Homo sapiens: one gene and its partner. The protein of the gene in region 1 interacts with the protein of each later gene in a pairwise test. Each region holds a gene or a part of one and is shown in the gene's direction. Other genes may lie near its edges.

Region 1 (7,275 bases):
CTAGGAGTGTAGGCTGGTGCTAAAACATGACCCAGGTCTAGAAAGACACACAATCCACCCCTAACTCCTTTCCTCGTCTGCCACTCCTTATCCCCAGGATTACTTGTTCTTTTATGACTGCTTTTCTCCTTCAAAGCTTCTCATTGCTAGTTTTTATCAGATTTCAGGTGATTAAAAAAGAAGGGCATACTATGATTGCTGTGTTCCTCAGGTACATTCCTGTGTTTCTCTGACCTTTTGGATCCCCTAACCTAACTGACTTGGTGAACAGGTTCTGTGATGGGGAAGGGAGATGGACACCCTTCTCTAGGAGGGCTGGCAAAAATACACCAATCACAAATAGTCATCTTTGTTGTGCTTTTTGTTTAAGATTGTTTTCCTCTTTTGCTATGGTGGGTGTTGTTCTTCGGATTTTTTTTTTTTTTTGGTTGATAGTATTTTAAAACCAGTCTACATAACAACTAAAAAATGTGGGAAAATAGCTGTAGTTGAAAAAAAAAAAAAAAAAAAAAAGGCCGGGCATGGTGGCTCACGCCTGTAATCCCAACACTTTAGGAGGCTGAGGCAGGTGGATCATCTGAGGTCAGGAGTTCGAGACCAGCCTGGTCAACATGGTGAAACTCCGTCTCTACTAAAAATACAAAAATTAGCCAGGTGTGGTGGTGTGCGCTTGTAATCCCAGCTACTTGGGAGGCTGAGGCAGGAGAATCGCTTGAACCTGGGAGGCGGAGGTGGCAGTGAGCTGAGATCATGCCATAGCACCTCCAGCCTGGGGAACAAGAGCAAAGATCCATCTCAAAAAAAAAAAAAAGGAAAAAAAAAGAAAACTAGTTGGCCGGGCACAGTGGCTCACGCCTGTAATCCCAGCACTTGGGAAGGCCGAGGCAGGCAGATCACCTGAGGTCAGTAGTTCGAGACCACCCTGACTAACATGGTGAAACCCTGTCTCTACTAAAAATACAAAAAATTAGCCGGGTGTGGTGGTGCATGCCTGTAATCCCAGCTATTCAGGAGGCTGAGGCAGGAGAATCGCTTGAACCTGGGAGGCAGAGGTTGCAGTGAGTGAGATCACGCCACTGCACTCCAGCCTGGGCAACAAGAGTGAAACTCTGTCTCAAAAAAAAAAAAAAAAAAAAAAAAAAAGACAAGTCTACTGGGCAGAGCATCAGTTGAAAGTTCAGAAGATAGGCTCTGTCCCAGCAATTTTGTGATTCTAAGTAAATTGTGAAGTTTCCTGGAAAGGTTAGACTCACCCCTTACTGCCTGCATCAGTATGGTTCCGTGGAGGTGAGTGAGAATTACTGTGTTTCTTGGGAAAAAATACACTACAGAATATGGACATGCCGTTTACCTAGCAGGCCTCCAACTCAGAATAGAATACATGGGTAAGCTTAGTCTGTTCCCACTGGAGCTAGCAGCACTTAATTCAGGAAGAAAGACCTACTGATGTTAGTGGGTTTAAAGGTCAATCACAAGAAGAGCGCACACACATCAGTGGAAAGGAAGAAAACAGTAAGAAAATACCATTTTTGCTCTCAAAAGATCTTACAATCAGTAATTTGGAGGGACTTGACACTTAGCAAGAAATACAAACAAGTGCAAATGAATACAGCTGGCTATAGGGATTTGGATAAAGATAGATACCTGCTGATAGACAGATACGGATGGATTGGCTGTGAGAAACTGTGTAACCCAGTCTACACCAAGTAGGAGGATAGGCTTAAAAACTGGTACATCTGTGTTGTTTGCTCACGGATATTTTGAGTCTTTAATCATTCATGTGAAAACCCTGACTTTTCCTCTAGCCTTAGGGAGCTCAAGTACTAGAGAATGGGTCCTTTATGGGGCTCTCAAAAATGAAGTTCTACAATTTGGGGCTACCTAGGTTTAGTCTTGGGATTGGTAGGGCTGTGTTCCTTTGTATTATAGAATGGGACATTCTTCTTCTACCTACTCTGATGTGAGAAAAGATTCTTTTCATATCTCTGTGACTGATCTAGGCCTTCTGAGAATTCTCCCCAGCAACTTCTGAGGAGAATACAGCAAAGTATAGAAGAAAGAGCATGGGCTTTGAAGTCACCGACATGGGTTTGATTCTGGCTCTGTCACTGGTTCCTCACTGTGTGAGGTTGGGCTAGTCACAATCACAATCTTTGAGCCTCAGTTCCCTCACCTATATAATGAGGGTAATAATGCTTACCATTCAGGGTTGGTTGTAAATATTAAATGAAATCATGTATGTGAAGGGCTTGATATAAAGAAGGTATTCAATAAATTCATACTTCAATGTCATTTCTTTTTTCTTTTTTTTTTTTTGAGACAGAGTCTTACTCTGTCACCCAGGCTGGAGTGCAGTGGCATGATCTCGGCTCACTGCAACCTCTGCCTCCCAGGTTCAAGTGATTTGCTTGCCTCAGCCTCCTGAGTAGCTGGGATTACAGGCACGTGCCACCACGCCTGGCTGGGTTTCACCATGTTGGCTAGGCTGGTCTTGAACTCCTGACCTTGTGGTCCATCCACCTAGGCCTCCCAAAGTGCTGGAATTATAGACATGAGCCACCATGCCCCGCTCCATTTCTTTATGTTCCTTTGTAAGGCTCCGTGGAATGTGTGTGTTCACAAATATCCTTTAGGGATCATGAAGGGTAAACTGTGTGATCTCCTGGATTGGGGCTTGTAGGTACATCCGAATTTTCTGCCCTCTACAGAGATGAAAGAGATTATACTTCGAGCAGAATCTGCCTCCCTTTTAGATAGCTAAGGTAGCCCATGGGGCATGCCAGCAATGTCTTGTGGTATCTGTACCTCTTGGCCCAAAGGCTTAGGGTTGGGCCGCTTGCTCAGTTCTCTGACAAGCAGAATAGTATTCCTTTGTGACTCTGTTCTCCAAGTTGGAGACTCTGATGGTTTCCTTCTAACAGGTTTCATTGAAAACAGATCCTGCAAAAGTTCCAGGTGCCCACACTGGAAACTTGGAGATCCTGCTTCCCAGACCACAGCTGTGGGGAACTTGGGGTGGAGCAGAGAAGTTTCTGTATTCAGCTGCCCAGGCAGAGGAGAATGGGGTCTCCACAGCCTGAAGAATGAAGACACGACAGAATAAAGACTCGGTGAGTTAAAATGAGAGACATGAAAGATGAGGGGCGGGGCAGGCAAGCTAGGAGGAAGGGTCTAGAGAAGAAGAACAAATAATGTGCACCATAAAGTTAGGTGCAATGTAAAGAACAGTGTTACCTACCTCCTTCCTCCTCCTGTAGATGTCAATGAGGAGTGGACGGAAGAAAGAGGCCCCTGGGCCCCGGGAAGAACTGAGATCGAGGGGCCGGGCCTCCCCTGGAGGGGTCAGCACGTCCAGCAGTGATGGCAAAGCTGAGAAGTCCAGGCAGACAGCCAAGGTATTCTGTCCTCAGGTCCTCCCACAGGATGCCCAAGGCACTGGGGCTGAGGGTGTGTGTGTGTTGTGGGGGAACTTCCTGTTTGGCAGAGGGTAACGGTGGAGCTCGGGAGGTAGGGAAAAGACAGGAATTTTCTCTTTCTCTCTAACAGAAGGCCCGAGTAGAGGAAGCCTCCACCCCAAAGGTCAACAAGCAGGGTCGGAGTGAGGAGATCTCAGAGAGTGAAAGTGAGGAGACCAATGCACCAAAAAAGACCAAAACTGAGGTGGGAAACCCTTGTCGCCATCCTGACCCATCTTGTGACCATTCTTTTCTCAGACTTGCTTATGCTCACTATTCTTAGCTGGATCTCTCCTGGGACATAAGAGAAAGGCCAGATCATAGTGCTTATGAGAGCAGTTCTGTCTATAATATGCCAGAGAGATTCTTAGAGCTTTGACAGACCACCAGATGACCAGGCAGGGCCAAAGGGGACCAGAAGAGTTGGGGGATTCTAGTCTCTGGGTGAGAAGTCTTAGTCGGAGGAACAAATAAATCTTAAGGAAAATGCAGAAGTGGTCTTTCTTTTTTATTGTTTTTTTTTGTTTGTTTGTTTTTGAGACAGTTTCGCTCTGTCACCCAGGCTGGAGTACAGTGGCACAATCTCAGCTCATTGCAACCTCCGCCTCCTGGGTTCAAACAATTGTGCCTCAGCCTCCCGAGTGGCTGGGATTATAGGCATGAGCCACCATGCCCGGCTAATTTTTGTATTTTTGGTAGAGACAGTGTTTCACCATGTTGGCCAGGCTGGTTTGGAACTCCTGGCATCAAGTGATCCGCCCGCTTCAGCTTCCCAAAGTGCTGGGATTACAGGTGTAAGCCTCTGTGCCCGGCCAGAAGTGGTATAAAAACCAAGGGCTTGGGGGATGGAGGATGGTTAAAGTGGTGGTTATGAGATGGTGGAAGACAGGGAGTTGGAGTCAGCTGTGGGTAGAGACAAGGTGCTTGAGATGGATCCTTGAGGAAGGAATAGGGTTTTACAGGCGGGAAACAAGACTGGCTGCTAGGGAGCAGCCAAGAATGTGAGGAAAGTGAGAAATCCCCAGATGGTAAGAGGTGGGCTTGAGCAAGAGTACTCACCACATCACAGTACAACAGTGTGCTGTGAGGGGAAATGATTTTATGCAAGAGAGCCCCAAATCTCAGGGAAGCAGGAAAGGAAAAGAGAAAAAATGAGTCTTCCCTTTTCTACAGCAGGAACTCCCTCGGCCACAGTCTCCCTCCGATCTGGATAGCTTGGACGGGCGGAGCCTTAATGATGATGGCAGCAGCGACCCTAGGGATATCGACCAGGACAACCGAAGCACGTCCCCCAGTATCTACAGCCCTGGAAGTGTGGAGAATGACTCTGACTCATCTTCTGGCCTGTCCCAGGGCCCAGCCCGCCCCTACCACCCACCTCCACTCTTTCCTCCTTCCCCTCAACCGCCAGACAGCACCCCTCGACAGCCAGAGGCTAGCTTTGAACCCCATCCTTCTGTGACACCCACTGGATATCATGCTCCCATGGAGCCCCCCACATCTCGAATGTTCCAGGCTCCTCCTGGGGCCCCTCCCCCTCACCCACAGCTCTATCCTGGGGGCACTGGTGGAGTTTTGTCTGGACCCCCAATGGGTCCCAAGGGGGGAGGGGCTGCCTCATCAGTGGGGGGCCCTAATGGGGGTAAGCAGCACCCCCCACCCACTACTCCCATTTCAGTATCAAGCTCTGGGGCTAGTGGTGCTCCCCCAACAAAGCCGCCTACCACTCCAGTGGGTGGTGGGAACCTACCTTCTGCTCCACCACCAGCCAACTTCCCCCATGTGACACCGAACCTGCCTCCCCCACCTGCCCTGAGACCCCTCAACAATGCATCAGCCTCTCCCCCTGGCCTGGGGGCCCAACCACTACCTGGTCATCTGCCCTCTCCCCACGCCATGGGACAGGGTATGGGTGGACTTCCTCCTGGCCCAGAGAAGGGCCCAACTCTGGCTCCTTCACCCCACTCTCTGCCTCCTGCTTCCTCTTCTGCTCCAGCGCCCCCCATGAGGTTTCCTTATTCATCCTCTAGTAGTAGCTCTGCAGCAGCCTCCTCTTCCAGTTCTTCCTCCTCTTCCTCTGCCTCCCCCTTCCCAGCTTCCCAGGCATTGCCCAGCTACCCCCACTCTTTCCCTCCCCCAACAAGCCTCTCTGTCTCCAATCAGCCCCCCAAGTATACTCAGCCTTCTCTCCCATCCCAGGCTGTGTGGAGCCAGGGTCCCCCACCACCTCCTCCCTATGGCCGCCTCTTAGCCAACAGCAATGCCCATCCAGGCCCCTTCCCTCCCTCTACTGGGGCCCAGTCCACCGCCCACCCACCAGTCTCAACACATCACCATCACCACCAGCAACAGCAACAGCAGCAGCAGCAGCAGCAGCAGCAGCAGCAGCAGCAGCAGCAGCATCACGGAAACTCTGGGCCCCCTCCTCCTGGAGCATTTCCCCACCCACTGGAGGGCGGTAGCTCCCACCACGCACACCCTTACGCCATGTCTCCCTCCCTGGGGTCTCTGAGGCCCTACCCACCAGGGCCAGCACACCTGCCCCCACCTCACAGCCAGGTGTCCTACAGCCAAGCAGGCCCCAATGGCCCTCCAGTCTCTTCCTCTTCCAACTCTTCCTCTTCCACTTCTCAAGGGTCCTACCCATGTTCACACCCCTCCCCTTCCCAGGGCCCTCAAGGGGCGCCCTACCCTTTCCCACCGGTGCCTACGGTCACCACCTCTTCGGCTACCCTTTCCACGGTCATTGCCACCGTGGCTTCCTCGCCAGCAGGCTACAAAACGGCCTCCCCACCTGGGCCCCCACCGTACGGAAAGAGAGCCCCGTCCCCGGGGGCCTACAAGACAGCCACCCCACCCGGATACAAACCCGGGTCGCCTCCCTCCTTCCGAACGGGGACCCCACCGGGCTATCGAGGAACCTCGCCACCTGCAGGCCCAGGGACCTTCAAGCCGGGCTCGCCCACCGTGGGACCTGGGCCCCTGCCACCTGCGGGGCCCTCAGGCCTGCCATCGCTGCCACCACCACCTGCGGCCCCTGCCTCAGGGCCGCCCCTGAGCGCCACGCAGATCAAACAGGAGCCGGCTGAGGAGTATGAGACCCCCGAGAGCCCGGTGCCCCCAGCCCGCAGCCCCTCGCCCCCTCCCAAGGTGGTAGATGTACCCAGCCATGCCAGTCAGTCTGCCAGGTGAGCGGCCAGGTGGGGCGGAGGTGGGCCTGGAAAGGGGACGACGACAAGGCGGCGACGAGAGAGGGAGTAGCAGGGAGGGGCCTTGCGCTGGTGTAGTGTTTTAGAAAAGCACGCCCCTCTCCTCCGTCCAGGCCTAGTGGCCAGTGAGGCCCGCAGCAGCTCACAGCCTGCAGGGGTGGTTTTGAGGCGGGGGCTACAAGCACTCGCCGGGGCCGCGGCGCTGCGGGCTCCATCGGGCAGCTCGCACCGCCTGAGCGCCCGCTGCTTCCACGCCCGGCAGGTTCAACAAACACCTGGATCGCGGCTTCAACTCGTGCGCGCGCAGCGACCTGTACTTCGTGCCACTGGAGGGCTCCAAGCTGGCCAAGAAGCGGGCCGACCTGGTGGAGAAGGTGCGGCGCGAGGCCGAGCAGCGCGCGCGCGAAGAAAAGGAGCGCGAGCGCGAGCGGGAACGCGAGAAAGAGCGCGAGCGCGAGAAGGAGCGCGAGCTTGAACGCAGCGTGGTGAGTGCGTCACTGCCTGCGCCACCGCCTTCTTTCCCTCTTTCCTTCCTTCCCTCTGCGCTGCGCTGCGCTACGCTACGCTGCGGGGCTGTGGCTGGGTGGGCGGGCGAGTCACGTCGCCACCTG
Region 2 (7,275 bases), on another chromosome or scaffold:
AGGGTGTTTGCTGGAATGGAAGCAAATCAGGAACATGAAAGCTAAGTTTACTAAGGGAAGCAGGTAGGGTGTTAGAGAAGTCTCCCCACAGAGGAACTAAAAACCTAGAGAATGAGTTGCAGTTTGGCAGATGGGAGGATGGGGATGGAGAATTGCAGAAACAGTGTATGTGAGGAAGACCTATTGGGAGCACAGAGACCAGTAGTTTTCAGGGGAAACCTTTACCAGCTAGATGTATGCGGAGGGCTCATGTGTGGCAGAGGGAGCTGACACTGGACAGCTCAACAGGAATCATTGCCGTGAAGGGTTTTCTATACCTAAAAAGGGGTTTAGATTTTACTAAACCCCTTTTTTGAAGAATTCTGAGCCTTTTCACAACCAGGACACCAGAAGGAGTAGTCTGAATGTCCTGTCTTTACTTTCTCACTTCCTTTGACTCCTCAGCCTATTGTAATTGGAGTTGCAGTCAAATCACTCCATTAAAGCCGTTAGTTAAGGGGCATTCCAGTTACTAAATGCTTTTCGGCCATCATGTCACACAGTGAAAGGGCAACAGCTTTGGCCCTGCTGACTCCTTTCTTTCCTGAACTGGTCTCTTCCTTGGTTTCTCTGGTTGTACTTCTCTTTCTTGGGGCTATTTTTCAATAGAAGCCTTTTCAGCCTTTTCTTTAGCATTGCCCATCTTTAAGTCTTTAAAGTCCGGAGTTTCATTCTTGATGGTCTTCTATTGTCATTCTATATTCTCACCCTGGGAAAATTCACATATCTTCTTGCCTTCCACCCCAATTACTCCTAAATCTTGTTATTTACTTCATATTTTTTTAAGTTCCAGATCTATATATTTACTGTCTACTAAAAAGCTGTCTTCATTAGGATAGTGCATAGACGTCTCAGACTCCATATGTCTGAAAAGTGAATCCATCATCTTTATCCCAACCTAATACCACTTGTAAATTTCCTGTCTTGGTGAATACATTATCAGCTACCTAGATGCTGAAACCAGTAACCTGTGGGTCCTTTTAGATCTTTTCTTTTCTCCCTTATGTGCCATAGATAATCAACTGCAAGTTATTTTAGTTCTACCTTACAGTTTCTCAAATATGTCTCCTTTTCCCTTCTGTTGTTGGAGTACTTCAGAAAGTCATCATCTCTCTCATCTGGATTATTGTTACCCTGCCTCTAACACTGCTTCCCCTTCCAACTAATTCTGTTCAGCAAATCTGATTGTGTCATCATGCGACCCCCTCTCCCACTGATTGGTGTAAGGCGAGAACTCAAACTTGATTTGTCGTTAAATCCTTTACTACCCATGTCCCAGGTGTCCCAGGTCTAGCTCTCTAGCTCCCATTCTCCTTCCATACTTCTGATAATGACTGCTCCTTTTTCTGAACTCCTAAACTGAATGCTTCTACCACCCCTGGATACTTACTCATACTACATGCCTTCTGCTGTTCTTTAACTGTTTATGTGTATGTATTTTATGGACCAAATGAGGGGACCTTCTCCAGGGCTTGGACCATATCCTCCAGAAAGGGTAAGACAGTATTTTTGTGGACATAGTATGCAGTCAATAAATATTTATTGGATTACATTCACTAATAAGTCTTTCTCTCCTTATATATTATTTATTAATAATGTCAATTTCTCTTTTAAAATCGTCTCTGAGTTTTTCATTTAACTGCATGAAGGCTTCACATTTTTCTAGTAACTTTGTAGCATTGCTTTGCTAATTAATAGGGCTTAACTTTTCATTTTCACCTAGCAAATCTGTTTCTTCATAGGTAAGGAATTCTTGCAATGTGCATGGTGGTAATAACAGCTATTTTTGGAAATATCAGCAGGAGTGTGCTAAATACTGTCAAATACTCTTAGATTCTTCTATCATTAGAAAGGCTTATAAACTTAAAAGTATCACAGCTTTAACTGGATTGAAGATAGGTTAATTTGATTCTTAGCTTTTCAAATGCAGACTTTCAAGAAAAAGGATTTTTTGGTTCAGTTTAAGACAAGACATTAGGAACTGATGTGTCTTATCGCCTTAGAACATGAAGGATTCTTTTGTTACTGACATAGGCATTGACATGTAGAGAAGAACTCCTGACTCTTCTTCTGTCTCTCCTTCCACTGGTATGGAAGATACCTGTCCAAGAAGAAAAGGCAACAGGTATGCTTTTTCCCTTTATCATATCACTTGTGTTATCAAAATTTCATAGAAAAGTTACTTCTGCCTGAATGTTTGATTCTGATTCAGATTCAGAACACTATATGTTATTGTGATTTATTCATACTAAATATGAAAAATTATTTAGGCAAACACATTTTTCCTTCAATAATACAAAAACCATGGTGCTTCTTGGGGGAAGTACTTGAATGTACTGATGATTAGAAAATGTATAAAGAAGCAGAAACACTTATCAGAAGGAGTGAGTCTAGGTGTGCAGCATAACATCAGAAAAATGGATAGTGAAAAGTTGGAAGTGAAAAGTCTGAATAAAGAAATTAAAGTTTCTTTGCTTATTTTAAAGACTGCTTTCTATTACCAGTATTCTATAAGTGACTTTTGCAGTATTTGTTTTAGCTTAGTTTTTCTAGTGTTGCCTTTAAAGTATAATTTTTTTTTTTTTTTTTTAGGCAGAGTCTCACTCTGTCACCCAGGTTGGAGGGCAGTGGAGTGATCTCGGCTCACTGCAACCTCAGCCTCCCGAGTTCAAGCAATTCTTGTGCCTCAGCCTCCTGAGTAGATGGGATTACAGTCGTGCACCACCATGCCAGACTAATTTTTGCATTTTAGTACATACAGATGGGATTTCACCATGTTGGCCAGGCTGGTCTCAAACTCCTGACCTCAAGTAATCTGCCCACCACAGCCTCCCAAAGTGCTGGGATTACAGGCATGAGCCACCGTGCCCAGCCTAAAGGATATATTTAATATTTTGTTTCAAGCTTGGGTAGAATTATTCTATGTAAGGTCGATAGATATTTTTAATTTATGATTTTGAAGAAATCATATGTCTATAAAGTACATGAAACTTTAAATGTTTCATTGGAGAGATTAATAGTTTTCCTCTTGACCCTTTCTTGTGACATGTTTGTGAGATGTTTGAAGATCTCTCAGGTTAAAAAAAAAATTATTGTATTTTAATTCCTGTATTTTTAGTGAATTTCATGGAGCTTTTTTTAAGGAGGTATCTAAGGTTTTGTAATACTGTTTTTCTGCTTATTTATTGATTCACTAACTCTCTGCTTTTATTTTTTTCTGAGTTTGCAGAATTCACAAATTGTTAATCACTTAAGAAATCTGATTAATGCTCTTTGGGGGAAGTTGTCTTCATTGTCTGCATCTTTTGCTTGGGTGGAATTTGTCAGACTCCTTTTAATTTCTCCTCTTCCCATCTGGTTTGCTTTCCCTGTCTTAGTAAAGCACAGATTTTTTTATTTACAGATTTTAATTTATTCACTCTAAATTACAGCTACTTTTTTATATAGCTCTTACTACATACTGCAAAGAGAAAGACTGATCTAATTATCTTTTTAGTTAAAGGGAGAATTCATTCATTTCCCCTGTGAAGTATTTACTGAGTGTTGACCATACGCCAGGCCCTATCTAGGCACCGGGGATGAAATAATAGTGTCTATACCTGGTGCCTAGTTCAGTGCTGAAACATTTGAGAAATAATTTGAATAAAGAATTATTTAAACCTCAGTTTTAGAGAACATTTGGCATATAGTGTATGATTTTGAAATAATTTTAGAAAAATCTTAAAGTAGTTAAATTATATCAGGTCTATGAATACTATTTTTGAGAATATAATACATCCTTACATTTTAATTAGTGGTACTATGGGAAGAGATTTGTAAATGGTGTGAACAACAGCACTAAATACCAGATAATCTACAGCATCTCTTATGTTGAAGTTAGAATATAATATATAGTTTTAAATCAGATTTACTTTCTTAACTCTGTTCTCTTTTGTTTGTTGTTGTTGTTTTGAGACAGAGTCTCACTCTGTCACCTGGGCTGGAGTGCAGTGGCACGATCTCATCTCACTGCAACCTCTGCCTCCCAGGTTCAAGAGATTCTCCTGCCTCAGGCTCCCAAGTAGCTGGGATTACAGGCGTGCACCACCACATCTGACTAATTTTTGTATTTTTACTAGAGACAGGGTTTCACCGTGTTGGCCAGGCTGGTCTCAAACTCTTGACCTCAAGTGATCCCACCCGCCTCAGTCTCCCAAAGTGCTGGGATTACAGGCATAAGCCACCTCACCCAGCCTCTCTTTTGTTGTTTTAAAAATCAGTTTGTATCCTTTGAAGTAATGTCAGCTAGTGTTTAGAGTAAGTATAGGTGTGCCTCTGTTTTGTTGTTTTAAAAATCAATTTGTATCCTTTGAACTAATGTCAGCTAGTGTTTAGAGTAAGGATAAGTGTGAGAGGAGGTAACCCAGAGATATGACATAAATGAAGGAAATCAGCCCTGCAGCAAAATACATTGAGGATAAACTCCTTTAGTGGGTTTAAGATAAATAAGAGGGCTGTCACCTTAAAATTGAGTTTTAAAACATATTGAGGTATTCTAAGCCTTCTTTTTTCATTCCATTAGATTTTAACCTACCGCTCTCAGCAGATATAATCCTGACCAAAGAAAAGAACTCAAGTTCACAAAGATCCACTCAGGAAAAATTACATTTAGAAGGAAGTGCCCTGTCTAGTCAGGTTTCTGCAAAAGTAAATGTTTTTCGAAAAAGCAGACGACAGCGTAAAATTACCCATCGCTATTCTGTAAGAGATGCAAGAAAGACACAGCTCTCCACCTCAGATTCAGAAGCCAATTCAGATGAAAAAGGCATAGCAATGAATAAGCATAGAAGGCCCCATCTGCTGCATCATTTTTTAACATCGTTTCCTAAACAAGACCACCCCAAAGCTAAACTTGACCGCTTAGCAACCAAAGAACAGACTCCTCCAGATGCTATGGCTTTGGAAAATTCCAGAGAGATTATTCCAAGACAGGGGTCAAACACTGACATTTTAAGTGAGCCAGCTGCCTTGTCTGTTATCAGTAACATGAACAATTCTCCATTTGACTTATGTCATGTTTTGTTATCTTTATTAGAAAAAGTTTGTAAGTTTGACGTTACCTTGAATCATAATTCTCCTTTAGCAGCCAGTGTAGTGCCCACACTAACTGAATTCCTAGCAGGCTTTGGGGACTGCTGCAGTCTGAGCGACAACTTGGAGAGTCGAGTAGTTTCTGCAGGTTGGACCGAAGAACCGGTGGCTTTGATTCAAAGGATGCTCTTTCGAACAGTGTTGCATCTTCTGTCAGTAGATGTTAGTACTGCAGAGATGATGCCAGAAAATCTTAGGAAAAATTTAACTGAATTGCTTAGAGCAGCTTTAAAAATTAGAATATGCCTAGAAAAGCAGCCTGACCCTTTTGCACCAAGACAAAAGAAAACACTGCAGGAGGTTCAGGAAGATTTTGTGTTTTCAAAGTATCGTCATAGAGCCCTTCTTTTACCTGAGCTTTTGGAAGGAGTTCTTCAGATTCTGATCTGTTGTCTTCAAAGTGCAGCTTCAAATCCCTTCTACTTCAGTCAAGCCATGGATTTGGTTCAAGAATTCATTCAGCATCATGGATTTAATTTATTTGAAACAGCAGTTCTTCAAATGGAATGGCTGGTTTTAAGAGATGGAGTTCCTCCCGAGGCCTCAGAGCATTTGAAAGCCCTAATAAATAGTGTGATGAAAATAATGAGCACTGTCAAAAAAGTGAAATCAGAGCAACTTCATCATTCGATGTGTACAAGAAAAAGGCACAGACGATGTGAATATTCTCATTTTATGCATCATCACCGAGATCTCTCAGGTCTTCTGGTTTCGGCTTTTAAAAACCAGGTTTCCAAAAACCCATTTGAAGAGACTGCAGATGGAGATGTTTATTATCCTGAGCGGTGCTGTTGCATTGCAGTGTGTGCCCATCAGTGCTTGCGCTTACTACAGCAGGCTTCCTTGAGCAGCACTTGTGTCCAGATCCTATCGGGTGTTCATAACATTGGAATATGCTGTTGTATGGATCCCAAATCTGTAATCATTCCTTTGCTCCATGCTTTTAAATTGCCAGCACTGAAAAATTTTCAGCAGCATATATTGAATATCCTTAACAAACTTATTTTGGATCAGTTAGGAGGAGCAGAGATATCACCAAAAATTAAAAAAGCAGCTTGTAATATTTGTACTGTTGACTCTGACCAACTAGCCCAATTAGAAGAGACACTGCAGGGAAACTTATGTGATGCTGAACTCTCCTCAAGTTTATCCAGTCCTTCTTACAGATTTCAAGGGATCCTGCCCAGCAGTGGATCTGAAGATTTGTTGTGGAAATGGGATGCTTTAAAGGCTTATCAGAACTTTGTTTTTGAAGAAGACAGATTACATAGTATACAGATTGCAAATCACATTTGCAATTTAATCCAGAAAGGCAATATAGTTGTTCAGTGGAAATTATATAATTACATATTTAATCCTGTGCTCCAAAGAGGAGTTGAATTAGCACATCATTGTCAACACCTAAGCGTTACTTCAGCTCAAAGTCATGTATGTAGCCATCATAACCAGTGCTTGCCTCAGGACGTGCTTCAGATTTATGTAAAAACTCTGCCTATCCTGCTTAAATCCAGGTTTGTATGTGTGTGGGTGGCGGCGGGGGCGGGGGTTGTTGAGCATGTCTAGATCTTTTTCATTGGATGCTTTCAAGTGAGTGATAAATTGTATGCATTTAAACTTCTAACACTGATATCTCCAGGGCTTTGGCAGCAGTGTGATCGTATTTACTCTTTATTCTTTCCTAGGATTTAATTTCAATTTGTCAACAAAAAATGTTCTCCTTCCATGTCAGATTTGTTTTAACCATTTGTTTATGTATGTATGCATTTTTTACTGAGCTGTTTATAGAGAAGAGGATACAGCCATTGATTTTAATTTCTCAACAAAAAGAAAAGTTTTAGATATACAACTGAGAAAAACGTAGATGAAACACAGATATCCAAGAGCAGGGCAAGTTTAATTACTTTATATTTCCTTGATAGAATATTATTGGCCATTGAAAATGTTTACAAAGATCATATTGGAATATGAGAAAATGATTATAATATCTTATGGGTAAAATATAAACAATTAAAATAGTGTTCACTTATTTACAACTATGTAAAATATGTATTACATGTAAAATAATACATAAAATGATTATTGAGGCAGAGGCACTAATGGGATTAT

Evidence for each region.
Region 2: the proteins of ATN1 (region 1) and LYST interact in a two-hybrid assay, tested with the Homo sapiens proteins (one study listed by BioGRID).

Annotation. Positions count from the first base shown.
Region 1 is NC_000012.12:6,930,919-6,938,193, forward strand, and holds part of ATN1 (atrophin-1), read left to right. Parts: intron 1-2,921; 5' UTR 2,922-3,083; coding exon 3,084-3,110; intron 3,111-3,257; coding exon 3,258-3,395; intron 3,396-3,546; coding exon 3,547-3,660; intron 3,661-4,628; coding exon 4,629-6,643; intron 6,644-6,926; coding exon 6,927-7,149; intron 7,150-7,275. UniProt on the Homo sapiens protein: Transcriptional corepressor. Recruits NR2E1 to repress transcription. Promotes vascular smooth cell (VSMC) migration and orientation. Corepressor of MTG8 transcriptional repression.
Region 2 is NC_000001.11:235,807,860-235,815,134, reverse strand, and holds part of LYST (lysosomal-trafficking regulator), read left to right. Parts: intron 1-2,073; coding exon 2,074-2,164; intron 2,165-4,600; coding exon 4,601-6,680; exon of another isoform or gene 6,681-7,030; coding exon of another isoform or gene 7,031-7,056; intron 7,057-7,275. UniProt on the Homo sapiens protein: Adapter protein that regulates and/or fission of intracellular vesicles such as lysosomes. Might regulate trafficking of effectors involved in exocytosis.